Linked DNA regions of Homo sapiens: region 1 is linked to region 2. The links come from fine-mapping of genetic effects on gene expression. Tissue or cell type: whole blood. Region 2 holds a variant in brackets; the other region holds the start of a gene. All regions are shown on one strand. Distances are from middle to middle.

Region 1 (8,000 bases), 22 kb after region 2:
AAAAGAAAAGAAACAAAGCAAAGCAATAAGCAATATAAGACCCTCTGATTTAAAGGAAAATCTGAAATAGCATTTGCCCCAAATCCCCAGGATCAGGAAATGAAATGTTTCCCATAACCACCAGAAGAAAGTATGCTGGGGCGGGAAGAAGATCACAGGTGACCCTGAGCAAATTACTCAGCCTCTCTGAGCCCTTCATATAAAGAGGCTTCCATAAAATGAGTTGATAGAATAATGGTGATTCTGTGGCCCATGTTAAAATTTGAGCCAAAATGCCTTGAAAACAGGCTTGGCCTGCCCCACTTGGCCTGGTCCTCTCCCCTGAGAGTGGTGTCTGGCCACTCATCTTCCATCTAGGATGAGGTTCTCAAAGAGGAAACCCCCGGCTACTGCACAAAGTTCCCTGCTAGGTCACCCCACCCTATCCCCTTCCCCTCCTACTCCCATCCCATCTCCCATTTCTGGCCCATCCTTCAAGGCTCTGCACAAATGACACCTCCTTCAGGGAGCCTCCCAGATTCACACCAGTCTGAGGAGATTTCTCCAGAACCCTCAGTGCCCTGTGCTCCTTCGATCACAACAGCACTCATTCCTTGTGGTGTTTCTCAACAGTGGCACTGCTGGCATTTGGGGGAGGGTGATTTTTTTTTGTTTTTTGTTTGTTTTTTGAGAGGAAGTCTCCTTCTTGTGCCCCACGCTGGAGTGCAATGGCACGATCTCAGCACACTGCAACCTCCGCCTTCCAGGTTCAAGTGATTCTCCTGCCTCAGCCTCCCAAGTAGCTGGGATTACAGGTGTGTGCCACCACGCCCAGCTAATTTTTGTATTTTTAGTAGAGATGGGGTTTCACCATGTTGGCCAGGCTGGTCTCGAACTCCTGACCTCAGGTGATCCTCCTGCCTCGGCCTCCCAAAGTGCTGGGATTACAAGCGTGAGCCACCACGCCCAGCCAGGGGAGGGTGATTCTTTATGTCGTGGCCCTGGCCTGCCTACAGGACACTTTAGTAGGCATCCCTGACTCCCGCCCACTAAAAGCCAGGAGTGCTTAGCATCATTTTGACAACCAAAAGTCGCCCCCACACTTTCCCAAATCCCTGCCAGGAGGGTGGGACCACCCCCGGATGAGAACTAGTGCATTGTTATTAGTGACTATATTTAGCTACCAGCCCACTAGCCATATCTAAGGATGGGCAGTACTACAGACCCTGCATAGAGCTGCATCGGCAAACACTGATGTAGTGAATAAACAAAACAAAACAAACTCCTGGGCTCCTCAAGAAGCTCAGGGCAGCCTTGCCAGGGTCTCTGCTCTTGAACAGGTGCACAAAGGTTCTAAGGCCTGACATGCCTGCACTGGCTGTGTGACCCTGAGCAAGTTACTTAACTTCTCTGAGCCCTTCTATAAAATGGGGCTAAATCCTAGCAACACTGCAGGATTTCTGTAAACCTCAGTCTCCTAATCTCTACTATGGGGTTAAAATTCCCTACGTTGTAGGATTTGGTAGGCATTAAATGAGATAATGCATGTAACACATAGCACAGAATCTGGCAGGCAGCAAGAACTCAATAGATGTTAGTTTTTAATACTGTTATTATTATTATTGTCCAGGGCCAGGTGGCAGCTCATGCCTGTAATCCTAGCACTTGGGAGACTGACGTAGGCGGATCACTTGAGGTAAGGAGTTCAAGACCAGCCTGACCAACATGGTGAAACCCCTTCTCTACTAAAAATACAGAAATTAGCCAGGCATGGTGGTGGGCGCCTGTAATCCCAGCTACTGGAGAGGCTGAGGCATGAGAATCGCTTGAACCCGGGAGGCGGAGGTTGCAGTGAGCCAAGATTGTGCCACTGCACTCCACCCTGGGCAACAGAGACTCCGTCTCAAAATAAATAAATAAGTATTCTTATTATTATCCAAGTTAGGGGCTCATCAAATGATGGCTATTACTCTTCATTACAAAAATATGTTTTGCGTCCTCATCACCAATGCCTGCTTCCTCCATAGGAAGGGTGTGTGTCACCAATGCCTGCTTCCTCCATAGGAAGGGTGTATGAGCAGCAGTCTGGAAGGGGTATGTGGGGCTTGCCCTAAAGCTGCATTTGCATGGCATGCACACTATTTATTCTGAAACTGCATGTTTTTGTGGGGTGATTAGGGAAGAGGGTGGCTAACTCCCCCAAAGCCCTCCCCTTGTTGCAGCCCCCGCCTCCTCCAAGGAACAAAGGAGCTTATGGGGACATAAAGCCATCCTCTTCTCTCTCCTCTGGGGGCAGAGCTAGGGGAGGGGGAGTGGTAAATGGCAGCACAGCTCTAGGGCACCTGAAGTTTCTATCCCCTGCGTGGAGACTCCAAACACCAGGCTGGGGAAGGTAAAAGTAGCCTGTAGGGAGATGGACGCTGCAGGTCCCATCCGGAGGCCAGGTATCCCTCTCTTGCTGATAGCACTGAGACGCCCTCCCCAAAGCTCAGCCTTCTCGGGGAGATCGGAGGGGCTGAGCTGCATCCTGTCCAGCACTAAGTGAGAGTGGCCAGGAGGGCAGGCTGGCAGAGCTGTGAAAGCACCCACTTCCCCAGCTAGGCAGTGCAGGGGCTGGGGGAAAGCCAGGAAAAGCTCAAGGCTGGGTCGGGTGGCACCCCAGGCACAGAGCCCCAATGCTGAGAGGGGCTGGGTCCAGTGTCCCTGAGAGTCAGGCGGACGCCTCTCCGCATTCACAGCATACTGCAACCCCGAGGTGAATTTAGGTCAGAAGGACCAAGCCTGTGAGGCTCCGGCTGAGAGAAGAGGTGCGGTGGGGGTGGTCAAAGGGCAGACCGAAGACAGCCAAAGGTCCCCTAGGTCCCCACAACTGCTGGCCTAGGGTCCTGCCACCTGGTGTCCAAGCCACCAGGGCCTGGGTTTGCCCCGAGACAGGCAGGCTGCGGGGTGGGGGTGCTCCAAGTCCGCTGGTCCTCTCTTCCCCGGAACGCTCCAGATTTCCCCACCTGTCAAACGCGAGGGGCTGGGCCTAGGCCGCCTCCACGAACCCTGACGGACCCGGCCCCCGGTGACCCCGGTTCCAAACTCCAGGACCGCCCCTGCCACCCGGACAGGGCGCGGCCCAGCCGAGGAGGCCATCCCGAGGCCCAGGGCGCCCAGAGGACGCGGGGGAAGGGCTGTCGGGGACCGTGTCCCTCCACGTGGCGGGGCGTGGGGAGGCGCACGTGGGGTCCCTCCGTGTTGGGAGCCCCAGGCCAGCCTCCGGGCTTTGTGTGCCATGCCGGCGGCGGTCCCCCGCCTCGAGAGGGAAACGGAGCGGGCGCCCGGGGCCGCGGCGGCTGCGTCCCTTGCCCCGGGCCCGGCTACCGCCAGCTCACCTGGGCTCCGCGCCGCCGCCGCCTCCCGCGCTCTGCGCCCCCAGCTCGGCTCGGCTCGGCTCAGCTTGCTCTGCGCGGCCGCGCGCTCCTCTCCTCCGCCCGGGCGGCGGGCGCGCGGGGGGCGGGGGCGGGAGGAGCCGCCCGGCTCGGCTTGGGCGCGTCGCCGCCCCGGGCAGCGCGGGGATTGGCCACGGCGGCGGGAAACCCGAAAGCGGAACCGCCCGCGCCCGCCGCGCACCGCCCCCTGCGCGCCCCCGCCGGCTCGGCCCTGCGCCGGGGAGGGGTGGGGAGGCGGGAGCCTGCAAAGACGAAAGTAGCGAAGAGGCGAAGGGCAAGGAGCAGAAAGGGAGGAGGCGAAGAACGGGGGAAGAGAGGCCCGGCCGGGAGGATCGGAGGCGGCTGGGAGGAGAGCCTGGAGGGGCGCGGAGCGCAGGAGGTGGCGCCGCAACTTTGTACCCGCTCGCCCGCGGCGCGCACCTGCCCAGGTTCTTCCCGCGGCGCCCTCGGGCGGGCCGCGCCGGCAGCGCTTGCTTTGTTTAGCCAAATGCCGGGGCTGCAGGGCGCCTCCGGGCTGACCCTGGGAAAGTTCCCCCAAGCCGGCAAGAACACCCGGGGCCCCTCCTGTGGCGACCCGGCTGCTGCCCCTGCGCTAGGCGCCGGGCGGTGGATGCGGCCTGGACTTTGGGCCACCACCGACTCGGGGGAGCCCCCTTCCGCAGCTGCCTGCCGACTGACCACTTGCTCAGGGCCGGCCCTAAAGGCTGGGGGAAGGCGTTCCTCTCCCATCCCCAGCCCACCTGGATGCACCATTGAAGTTCATTCTGGCTTTTCCAGATGGCTACTTAGATGCTTTTTGTGAAATACAGCATATTCTTCCCATTCTCCCCTTTTTGGCACTTACTTTGCTGGAGCCTTAAGTGTGCGTTGGATCCCCCAGCTGGATAACAGCACTGTGCGGGGAAGAGGAGAAACGAAGACCTGGAGGGCTCCCTGAACCGTCCTACGGGGTCGAGCGACCCAGGGGATGTCTCACTGACCCTGCCAAACAGCCAAAAGGGAATCGAGTTGACAGGAGAGTCAACCTCCAAGTTAATAAAAGGTTCAAAGCCCTCTAGTTAACTGGGTGGATTTCCAGCCCGTTCCGATGTGCTTCTCTTGTATTTCTAGGCCGTAGGGACACTCACATGCAACGAGCCAATGAGAGCTCCACCCCGACTCCCTTTTTTTTTTTTTTTTTTTTCTTTTCTGAAACGGAGTCTCGCTCTGTCGCCCACGCTGGAGTGCAGTGACGCGATCTCGGATCACTGCAACCTCTGCCTCCCAGGTTCAAGCAGTTCTCTGCCTCAGTCTCCCGAGTAGCTGGGATTACAGGCGCCGGCCACCATACTTGGCTAATTTTTGTATTTTTCGTAGAGATGGGGTTTCACCATGTTGTCCAGGCTAATCTTGAATTCCTGACCTCGTGATCCACCCGCCTTGGCCTCCGAAAGTGCTGGGATTACAGGTGTGAGTCACCGCGCCCGGCCCACTCCCATTTTTTTTTCTTTGTTTTTTTTGTTTGTTTGTTTGTTTGTTTGTTTGTTTGTTTTGAGACAGGGTCTCTCTGTGTTGCCCAGGCTGGAGTGCAGTAGCACGATCACGGCTCGCTGCACCCTCGACCTCCCCAGGCTCAGGTGATCCTCCAGCCTCAGCCTCCTGAGTAGCTGGGACTACAGGCACACACCACCACACCTGGCTAATTTTTTCTATTTTTTGTAGAGACAGAGTTCTCCCTATGTTGCCCAGGCTGGTCTCAAACTCCTGGGCTCAAGTGATCCTCCTGCCTCTGCCTCCCAAAGTGCTGGGATTATAGGCATGAGCCAACATGCTCGGCCATCCACCTCTTCTGATGTTACTCAACGTGCATGCATTTGCTGGAAATGGCAAAAACCTGAGGCCGGGCATGGTGGCTCACGCCTATGATCCCAGCACTTTGGGAGGCCCGGGCGGAGAGATCACTTGAGGCCAGAAGTTCGAGACTAGCCTGGCCAGCATGGTGAAACCCCATCTCTATCAAAAATACAAAAATTAGCCCGGTGTGGTGGCGGTGCCCGTAATCCCAGCTACTCAGGAGGCTGAAGCACGAGAACCACTTGAACCGGGAGGCAGAGAGATCGCACCACTACCCTCCAGCCTGGACGACAGACCAAGACTGTTTCAAAAAAAAAAAAAAAAGTCTGGGCACAGTGGCTCACGCCTGTAATCCCAGCACTTTGGGAGGCCAAGGTGGGCAGATCACGAAGTCAGGAGTTCAAGTCCAGCCTGACCAGCATGGTGAAACCCCGTCTCTACTTAAAAAAAAAATGCAAAAATTAGCCAGGCATGGTGGCGCGCGCCTGTAATCCCAACTACTCAGGAGGCTGAGGCAGGAGAATCGCTTGAAACCCGGGAGGCAGAGGTTGCAGTGAGCCGAGATCATGCCACTGCACTCCAGCCTGGGTGACAGAGCAAGACTCCATCTCAAAAACAAAACAAAACAAAACAAAAACACAAAAAAAAAACCACCTGGGAACAACTTCCTATATGTTCATCAAAGGAATGGATAAATGAAACTCATTATAGTTGTTTGATGGAATACCATCTAATAGATAAAAGGGGTGCACTGGATCTGTACTGACATAAGGAAATCCCAAAAACATAATGTTGAGTAAAACAGCAAGTTGCAGAATACAACATGATGTACAATTTGTGTGTACCTTAAAATCCCATGCAGTAGATACTGTTCATGGACACATGCTTACATACAAGATTTTTAAAGTCAAAGAGAAGAATATACATTAAATTCATGACAGTGTGCCACAAAGAAGGAAAAAAGCACAGAACGGGACAGGGAGCATAAGGAATGTTGTAAAGTTTTATTCCTTTTAGTACTTATAAATGGCTGTGAGGCAAATGGCAAACTGTTAGCAATAGTCAATTCTGAATGGGGGATGCATAGTCCCGTATTTTTCTATATTCTCATATTTCCCCCCCCCCCCCCAAAAAAAATATGTATCAGGCCTGGTGGAGATTATCTGGGGCACTTTAAGGCAGGGTCAGCAAACTTTGTAAAGGGCCAGATAGTAAATATTTTAGGCTTTGCAAGCCATAGGCTCTGTAATGCAGCTACTCAACCCTGCCATCCTAGCAGCCACAGGAAATAGTAAATGAATGCATGCGGCAGTGTTCCAATAAAACTTTATTTACAGACACTGAAAACTGAATTTCATATGATTTTCATAAGTCACAAAATATTACTGTTTTGGTTTTTATTTAACCATTGAAAAATGTGAAAGGCCAGGTGTGGTGGCTTACACCTACACGCGTGATTACAATCTTAGCACTCTGGGAGGCCGAGGGGGCAGGATCACTTGAGCCTAGAAGTTTGAGACCAGCCTGGACAACATGGCAAGACCCATCTTGACAAAAAGAAAAAAGAAAAACGTAAAAACCATTCTTAGCAGGCCATAAAAAACAGGTGGCATGACAGATTTAGCTTATGGGCAATAAATAGTTTGGCAACCCTGCTTTACTAAGGTAACCAAAATAGATTTGGGTGTCCTTTCCTGTTACTGGATGTCTTTTCCTGGTACTTGTTAAACAATTCTGTATGTTTACATCATGTTACTAAATTGCCTGTGTTTTATTAGAACACTGTAGCTCACACAGGCAGAAACTTAGATATACACACAGCTGTGTAAACTTAAAAGCCAATTAAGTAAGAAAGGTTGGGAAGTGCCCCTACAAATCCAAACCCTAGCTCAAGAGTTGCTTTTCCTGATAGTTTCCTGAAATGCTGTGAGCCAGGCCCTCCCTGCCCGCTCCTCTCTCTGATGTCTTAAAGCAAGGACTGTACCATTTATTTGATGCTCAGCCACCTCCCTTCCTTCTTTATTCCTTCCTTTTTCACTCTGTGTTTTGACTTGCCAATAGACCTATATCTTCCTGGCATCTAGGCAGGTACCACATCTGAAACCTTTGTATACTCTCCGCATTGTGGGTGACAGCAATGACCCTGAAGTCAGATAGATTTTGTTCACATCCCAGTTTCACTAGTTACCAGCTCTGTGGCCTTGGGCAAATGACTTGATCTCTCCCAATTTGGTTTCGTCAGCTGTCAAATGGGGATAATAATAGTATCTAGCTCACAGGTTTCCCATGAGGTTTAAATCTAACGATGTATGTATGTAAAGATACTAGCTCTGTGCTTGGTACATAAGTCTTCAATGATGCTAACTAATTAAAATTAGCACAAAGCTAAAACCCCCATCAATATATGTGCTTTCCTTATTAAAGTTAATTAGAACAGGACAGAAACATCACAGTTGCAATTCTTTTTTTTTTTTTTTTTGAGACGGAGTTTTGCTCTTGCTGCCTGGTCTCACAGTTGCAATTCTTTTTTTTTTTTTTTTTTTGAGACGGAGGTTTGCTCTTGCTGCCTGGTCTCACAGTTGCAATTCCTTTTTTTTTTTTTTTTTGAGACGGAGTTTTGCTCTTGCTGCCTGGTCTCACAGTTGCAATTCTTTTTTTTTTTTTTTTTTTGAGACGGAGTTTTGCTCTTGCTGCCTGGTCTCACAGTTGCAATTCTTTTTTTTTTTTTTTGAGACGGAGTTTTGCTCTTGCTGC
Region 2 (8,260 bases):
AGGCGATATGGAATTTCGTTGGAAGCTTTCTGAGCTTCTGCAGAAACATATTTAATTTTAAGATACAAGAAAACAAAACTAAACCAAAAACCTAGATCATTAATGACAAAACCCTCTCCACCAACCTCGCCTTCAAAGACTCCTCTCCTGCTCCCAGCTTTACCCCGTTCCCTCCACAGTATCTGAACGCCCCTGGTGAATGCAGAAAGCCAGCCTAGCCCCAGGGATATTTACCTTTCCAATTTCATCCTTCAGGGTATACTGATTCAGCTGCACACAGTCCTAGAGAGTAAGGAGAGACACGTGCAAAATGAATTTTAAGTTTGCAACTAGAGGCCAGGCACGGTGGCTCACACCTACAAGCCCTTCAGGAGACCAAGGTGGGAGGATCACTTGAGTTCAGGAGTTCCAGACCAGCCTGGCCAACATGGTGAAATCCCATCTCTATTAATAATATAAAAATTAGCCAGGCGTGGTGGTGGGCACCTGTAATCCCAGCTACTCAGGAGGCTGAGGCACGAGAATCGCGTGAGCCCAGGAGGTGGAGGTTGCTTGAGCGGAGATTGCACCATTGCACTCCAGCCTGGGCAAAAGAGTAAAACTGTGTCTCAAAAAAAAAAAAAAAAAAGTTTGCAACTAGATACATTTCTCCAAATTAAACACATACAGGTAACCAGAACCCAAATCAAGAAAGAGAACATCCCCAGCTCCCAGAAGCCACTCGCACCTCTGCCCTCCCCCAGGTGGCCACTCTCTTGACTTCTAACAACGCTGATTTTGCTTGTTGTACTTTGTCAAAATGTAACCACACACTGTGGACTCTTGTAAAACCCATTTTTTAAAGAAGGTTGTTCCTACTTTTAAAAAGTAAATTTTAAATCAAACAAGTAATCCTTGGCTACATTGTCCTGTAAAAACATAAAGTGATACAAGAAAAGCAAGTCTGTGCAACCTTGGGGTAGACAAGGGTTTCTTAGATAATACAAAAAAGGTACAGACAAAAGAAACAAATGATAAATTGGACTTCACCAAAATTAAAACTTTGGCTTTTTTTTCTTTTTGAGATGGAGTTTTGCTCTTGTTGCCCAGGCTGGAGTGCAATGGCACAATCTCAGCTCACCGCAACCTCCGCCTCCCAGATTCAAGCAATTCTCCTGCCTCAGCCTCCCAAGTAGCTGGGATTACAGGCACCCACCACCACGCCCAGCTAAATTCTTTGTATTTTTAGTAGAGATGGGGTTTCTCCATGTTGGCCAGGCTGGTCTCTAACTCCTGACCTCAGGTTATCCTCCCGCCTTGGCCTCCCAAAATGCTGGGATTACAGGCGTGAGCTACTGGGCCTAGCCTATTTTGTTTTTTGTAGAGATGGGTCTTCCTATGTTGCCCAGGCTGGTCTCAAACTCCTGGTCTTAAGTGATCCTCCCGCCTCAGTCTCCCAAGTAGCTGGGATTACAGGCATAAGCCATTGTACCAGGCCTTGACAGTTTCTTAACAAACATCTACCGTACCACAGGCCACTCTACCCAATAGAAGTGAAAATGTGTTTACAAAGACTTGCATATAAATATTAATAACAGCTTTAGTTGTAATAATAAAAAATTGGAAGCAATCCAAATGTCCTTCAACAGGTAAATGAATAAACAAACTGTGGTACGTCCATACAATTGAAATTATTCAGCAATAAAAAGGAACTACAGATATACGCCACAACATGGATAAATCTCAAAATCATGATGCTGTGAAAGAAGCTAAGCTAAAAAGGAGCCATTGCTCATAGGTCCTAGCTCTGTTTTTGGCTCATGCTGTGAATTCTCCCTCCTCTCAACTCTCCAGGGCCCAATTTTCATCTCCAATTATGAAAGTTTTTCCTGGCCTTCAAAATGTAGTCCCTATAGCCCCTTCAAAATCAGCCCCTTTGGCAGTGCACAGTGGCTCATGCCTGTAATCCCAGCACTTTGGGAGGCTGAGGCAGGTGGATCACCTGAGGTCAGGAGTTCGAGACCAGCCTGGCCAACATGGCATTACCCCATCTCTACTTAAAAAAAAAAAAAAAAAAAAAAATTAACTGGGCATGGTGGTGCACACCTGTAGTCCCAGCTACTCATGAGCTGAGGGAGGAGAATAGCTTGAACCTGGGAGGTGGAGGTTGCAGTGAGCCAAAATCACGCAACTGCACTCCAGCCTGGGCAACACAGCAACCCTCTGTCTCAACAACAACAACAAAAAAAAGCCCCTTTAGAAAGGCATCCTGATGTTGGGTCTTCTTCCAATTAAATTCATTCGTTCCTTCAACAAATATTTTTGCGCTCCTACTATGCACCAGGTACTGTGCTAGGCTCTGGGGATGGGATAGGGTGTGGAGGTGGATGAAATGATCCTATGGAGCTTACGTTCTGGCTGGGTGGAGACAGGCAATAAACAACTAAACCAACGCACAGATAATCAGATGCTGATTAACGTTATGAAGGAAAGCAAATAGGGCCATGGGGCAGAGAGAGGCTGGAGGGTGCTTTAGGGATGGTGGCCCGGGAAGCCTTTTGGAGGAGGTGATACTGGAGTTGAGACTTGGACATTATCGGAATAGGCCTTACAAAGTTGGCATGGGGTGGTGGGGGAGGTGGTTCCAAGCAGAAGGAACAGCGAGAGTACAGACCCAAGGCAAGAGCTTGGATTCCGAGGAATGTGAAGGCAGGAACAGAGGGAGCTTAGGGAGCTGGCAGCAGAATGGCAGGAGGGATGGGAAAGGGTCAGACCACACAGGGCCCTGTGAACCCTGGTGAGGATCTGAGTTCTCTGTATCCCCGCAGGGTTTACGGTAAGGGTCCTGTGAGAAATGCACAGCAAGTGCTGAACCCAGTGCCTGGTGCCAACACACGCTCGGCCAGGCGGGTCGTCGCCAGGCTCTCAGTGACCCGCCTCATTCCATCACACCTTCGCCCACACCTCAGTCTCTTTGCTGGAGGCTCCCTCCGGCCCTGCAACTGCTCTGTCCACACCCACAGGGGGTCACACACACCTGCCCCAGCAGCCCTCACCCATGAGTATAAATACCCCAGCTCCCTTGCCCCTGGTGGGATGACTGAGGCTGCTGCTCTGTGCTGTTCCCCAGGGTCCCACGGAAGGAAAAAGCCCCAGCGGCCCACACTCCACACTGGTAATCGGCTCCATGACCCACCCTTTGCTGACTGCCTTCCCTTCCCCATGCTGATTCACGACCCCCCTAGGGCCCCTTTTTGGCCCCAGCCGCCCCCAAGGTTCCCTGGAGTCAACTCCTAGGTCAACCGTGGCACTCAGATCCTTCTGGGGGAGCCCAACCTTCCACAGAGGCCCTGCTGGGGGCAGGGAAGGGCACCAGGGACCCCTAGGACCTGGCTCACCACCGGCTCACGCACCTGCATACCCGTGATGGAGACGTGGTGAGACTCCACTGTCGGCCGCCGGGGCAGCCGAGGCGAGGACTGCGGGGAGCTGACGGGTGAGTAGGGCAGGGACGGGCAGATGCAGCGTCCGTTCATGTCCAGGCTGCCACCGGCTGCCAGCCCACCCTGGGACCGCTCTTGCAGAGACAGCTTGCGACCGGAGAGGTGGGGCCGGGCCTGGGACCCGGAGGTGTCAAGGGGGACCTCTTGGCCATCGGCCTCCAGGGGCCGGTCCCGCGCCAAGCCGAGGTCCACAGCACAGCCCGGCTCACACTCGGTGACCACAATGAAGGACTCCATGCCCAGGTGGATGCTCAAGGATGAGAGGCCCCGCAGGGCCTCACAGGGCTTCTGGCTTTCGCTGCTGCTGCTGCCCCTGCCCCCCAGCTCATCCTGGGGGGCGGCCCGGTTGCTG[C/T]TGGGCTGGCTAGAGACACATGATGACATGGTGCATGCGCCAGCTTCATCCAGCACACTGGGGCACTCCCATCCGGCAGCGGAGCCACCTGCAGAAAGAGAAAGGGTCAGCTGGCCCAGCTCCTACGGGCAGGGACAGGAAAGGATCCCCTCTCCTCCTGGCCCAGGCTGCTGTCTAATTCCTGCCTCCAGTTGACATCCTAAAAAAATCTTGCAAAACATGGTGTGATCTGATCTCTGAGTCTATACAGAAAAGCAGAGTCTGCATCTTCTTATATTTTTTCTTTTATTATTTTTTCTTTTTTTTTCTTTTTTTTTTTTTTGAGACAAGGTCTCTCCCTCTCTCTGTTGCCCAGGCTGGAGTACAGTGGTGCGATCATAGCTCACTGTACCCTTGAACTCCTAGGCTCAAGTGATCCTCCCATCTCAGCCTCCCAAGTAGCTGGAACCACTTCTCACATACCATGACAATAATTCCTAACTCAATTCCTATAGGAACAAGTATAAGAAAACCCCCAAATAGAGCACACATATCCCCTACAGAATTGACAGCTGCTTCCAGCTCAAGCCAATTGTTGCTCGGCAGGAATCTGGGCCTACTATTGCTGGTCTTCCCTTTGTTTTTCCCAAGAGAAGCCCTAAGGAGGTTAATAAGTTTGCCTGACTTTTTATTTTTAAATGCTGGGCATTAACAATGCAGGTCAGGGCTGGACACGGTGGCTCACACCTGTAATCCTAGCATTTTGGGAGGCCAAGGCAGGCAGATTACTTGAAGCCAGGAATTCCAGATCAGCCTGGCCAACATGGTGAAACCTCATCTCTACTAAAAATACAAAAATTAGCCGGGCATGGTGGCGTGTGCCTGTAATCCCAGCTACTCAGGAGGCTGAGGCAGGAGAATCGCTGGAATCCAGGAGGCGGAGGTTGCAGTGAGCCGAGATCATGCCACTGCACTCCAGCCTCAGCAACTCAGCAATAGACCAAGACTGTCTCAAAAAAAAAAAAAAAAAAAAGGTCGGGGGGAATCAAGTATATGCCACAATATGGATGAACCTCTAAAATATTATGCTAACTGAAGGAAGCCAGTCACAAAAGGTCACATATATATGATTCTATTTATATGAAATTTTTAAAATATGCAACTCCACAGAGACAGAAAGTAGACTAATGGTTGCCTAGGACTATGGGGGTGGTGACATTAGTGGGTGTGGGGAATGGCTGCTTAATGGGCACAGGTTTTCCTTTTGGGGTGATCAAAACGTTTTGAAACTAGATAGAGGTAATGGTTGCACAGCATTGTGAACGTACTAAATGCCACTGAACTATACACTTCAAAATGGCCAACTTATGTTACATGAACTTATATCTCAATTTTTTAAAAAAGGCCAGGCACGGCAGCTCACGCCTGTAATCTCAGCACTTTGGGAGGACAGGGCGGGTGGATCATGAGGTCAGGAGTTCAAGGCCAGCCTGACCAACATGGTGAAACCCCATCTCTACTAAAAATACAAAAATTAGCCAAGTGTGGTGATGTACACCTGTAGTCCCAGCTACTCAGGAGGCTGAGGCAGGAGAATCACTTGAACCCGGGAGGCGGAGGTTGCAATGAGCCGAGATCACGCCACTGCACTTCAGCCTGGATGACAGAGTGAGACTCCATCTCAAAAAAAAAAAAAAAGAGAGAGAAGTCGGACACAGTGGTTCATACCTGTAATCCTCCCAGCACTTTGGGAGGCCAAGGCAGGTGGATCACCTGAGGTCAGGAGTTCAAGACCAGCCTGGCCAACCTGGTGAAACCCCATCTCTACTAAAAATACAAAAATTACCTGGGCATGGTGGTGGGCACCTGTAATCCCAGCTACTCGGGAGGCTGAGGCAGGAGAATCACTTGAATCCGGGAGGTGAAGGTTGCAATGACTGAGCCGAGATCGCACCACTGCACTGCAGCCTGGGTGACTGAACAAGACTCATCTCAAAAAATAAAAATAAAAAAGATTAACACATCCCCTTAGGCTGTCAATTCTTACCGTCTCTGGGACAGAACATTAACCTTTGCTTAACGTGTTTGACAAATTCTGCTGGACAAATGTCACAGGTACCACTGGAATTCAGGGAGTACATTTGTGGACAGACACCTGTGGATGATGGCCACTCCATGCTAATCACCCACATCACAAAGGGTCTCTCTGGACCATCCTGGCCAACATGGTGAAACCCCGTCTCTACTAAAAATACAACAATAAGCCAGGTGTAGTGGCTCATGCCTATAATCCTAGCTACTGGAGAGGCTGAGGCAGGAGAATTGCTTGAACCTGGGAGGCGGAGGTTGCAGTGAGCTGAGGTTGCACCACTGCACACCAGCCTGCCAACAGAGGGAGACTCCATCTCAAAAAAAAAGGGCGGGGTGGGGGGGGGGTCTCTCTAGATGTCCCAGGAAAACAGTGAGGGCTCAGCAGAGATTTTATGAATGAATAAAATGGTATCTCCGATGACATTGGGAGGTAGTGGGGTAAAAGAGAGGAAGGTACAGACAGCGGAAAGCCAGAGCTCCCTGGAGGATCTGGCTGAGAGGCAGAAAATGGCCCTCAGCGCTCTCGGAACGGTCCTTCCAGAAGAACTGATGAAATAGCTACTACGCCAGGCACGTGGCAGGGAAAGCCCAACAGGAAAGGCAAAAGGGAAAACCCAACGCCCCAGCCCTGACACGGGCCTGACTCATGCACACAGAGTGTGTGGTAAGAGAACGCCAAAGAGTCCAATCATGCGGCAAGATGTTCAACCTCACAGTAAGAGAACTGCAAATTCAAACTACAATCAGGCAGCCTGGTGGCTCCCCAAAAAGTTAAACGTAGAGTTGCCATATAACCAGCAATTCCTCTCCTAGGTATAGACCCAAAAGAATTGAAGGTAGGGATTCAAACGGATACTTGTACACTAATGTTCATAGCAACATCATTCACAATAGCCAAAAGGTATAACCAAGTGTCCATCAACAGACGAATGAATAAACAAAATGTGGCAGAGCCATACAACAGAATACTATACAGCCACAAAAAAGAAGGAAACTCTGACTCACACTACAACACAGACGAACCGTGAAGACATACGCTAAGTGAAGCAAGCCAGATACTAAAGGACAAGTGTTGTAAGATTTCAGTTACATGAAGTATCTAGAATAGTCAAATTCAGGCCAGATGCAGTGGTTCGCACCTGTAATCCCAACACCTTGGGAGGCCAAGGCAGGCAGATCACTTGAGGTTAGGAGTTCCAGATAAGCCCGGCCAATATGGTGAAACCCCATCTCTACTAAAAATACAAAAATTAGCCAGGCGTGGTGTTGGGCACCTGTCATCCCAGCTACTCAGGAGGCTGAAGCAGGAGAATCACTTGAACCCGGGAGGCACAGGTTGCAGTGAGGCGAGATTGCGCCACTGCACTCCAGCCTGGGTAACAGAGCAAGACTCCATCTAAAATAAATAAATAAATAAAAAGTGTTTTAAAGGAAAGAAAATACCTGTAACCATGATCGGAGTTATGATGATAAGGCCTAGGATGCTACGGGATCAGACGGGGCAGGAGGTCAGGAGAGGGGAGCAGTTGGTCTTATCTCCTATTTCTCTGTCCCCCATTCCCCCTTACTGTATCTCAGAAAGAAATCATCAACTCTGTCCCTGTCTCAGTTTCCCCATCAATGAGAGAATACAACTCAAGTTTGATATTTCTCTATGGCCCTAGCTGCTGCTACTTTACTTCTCCTTCTCATGGTCCTTATGTCCCAGAAGAGGAAACTCAAGATACCCTGAAGTTCAACAGCTTAAGGTCATTGACATCCTGTAAAGTTGGTGCCCATCTGATAGTCATAGGATTAGATGAACCAAGCACTCAGAATCATGCCCTGCAAGTGGTTAAGTACTCAAAAACTATTACTTCAACAAACACCTGTTGGATGCTATGGTTTGACTCTGTGTCCTCTCCCAAATCTCACCTTGAATTGTACTCCCATAATTCCCGTGTGTTGTGGGAGGGACCCAGTGGGAGATAATTGAATCACGGGGGCGGGTTCCCCCATACTGTTCTCATGGTGGTAAGCCTCACGAGATCTGATGGTTTTATCAGGGGGTTCCGCTTTTGCATCTTCCTCATTCTCGCTGCCTGCTGCCGTCCATGTAAGACCGGACTTGCTCCTCCTTGACTTCCGCCATGATTATGGGGCTTCCCCAGCCAAGTGGAACTATAAGTCCAGTTAAACCTTTCTGTTGTAAATTGCCCAGTCTCGGGTATGTCTTTATCAGCAGCGTGAAAACGGACTAATACAGATGCCCATGGCCTGCTCTGGTAGGTAGCCTATGCTCTGGAATGTTCCCACGAGGACCAATGTCCAAGCGAGCTGGCCTGCTCTTAAGTGTGTCCCTCAGCCCTGGCTGTGT

Evidence for each region. PIP is the estimated chance that this variant, and not a neighbour inherited with it, causes the effect.
Region 1: it holds the start of CAMKK2, and the variant in region 2 is fine-mapped to the expression of CAMKK2 in whole blood (TOPMed, PIP above 0.99).

The regions. Positions count from the first base shown.
Region 1 is chr12:121,293,282-121,301,281 of GRCh38, forward strand. It overlaps CAMKK2 (calcium/calmodulin dependent protein kinase kinase 2), which reads right to left and starts at 3,428. Exons shown (of 17, transcript NM_001270485.2): 1 at 3,357-3,428. RefSeq lists a silencer at 2,964-4,113.
Region 2 is chr12:121,270,664-121,278,923 of GRCh38, forward strand. CAMKK2 (calcium/calmodulin dependent protein kinase kinase 2) reads right to left here. Exons shown (of 17, transcript NM_001270485.2): 2 at 3,393-3,922; 3 at 235-282. The coding sequence starts at 3,863. Among named protein-coding and RNA genes, the nearest start is that of CAMKK2, 22 kb to the right of the region's middle. The variant C/T (reference allele first, on the strand shown) is at 3,835.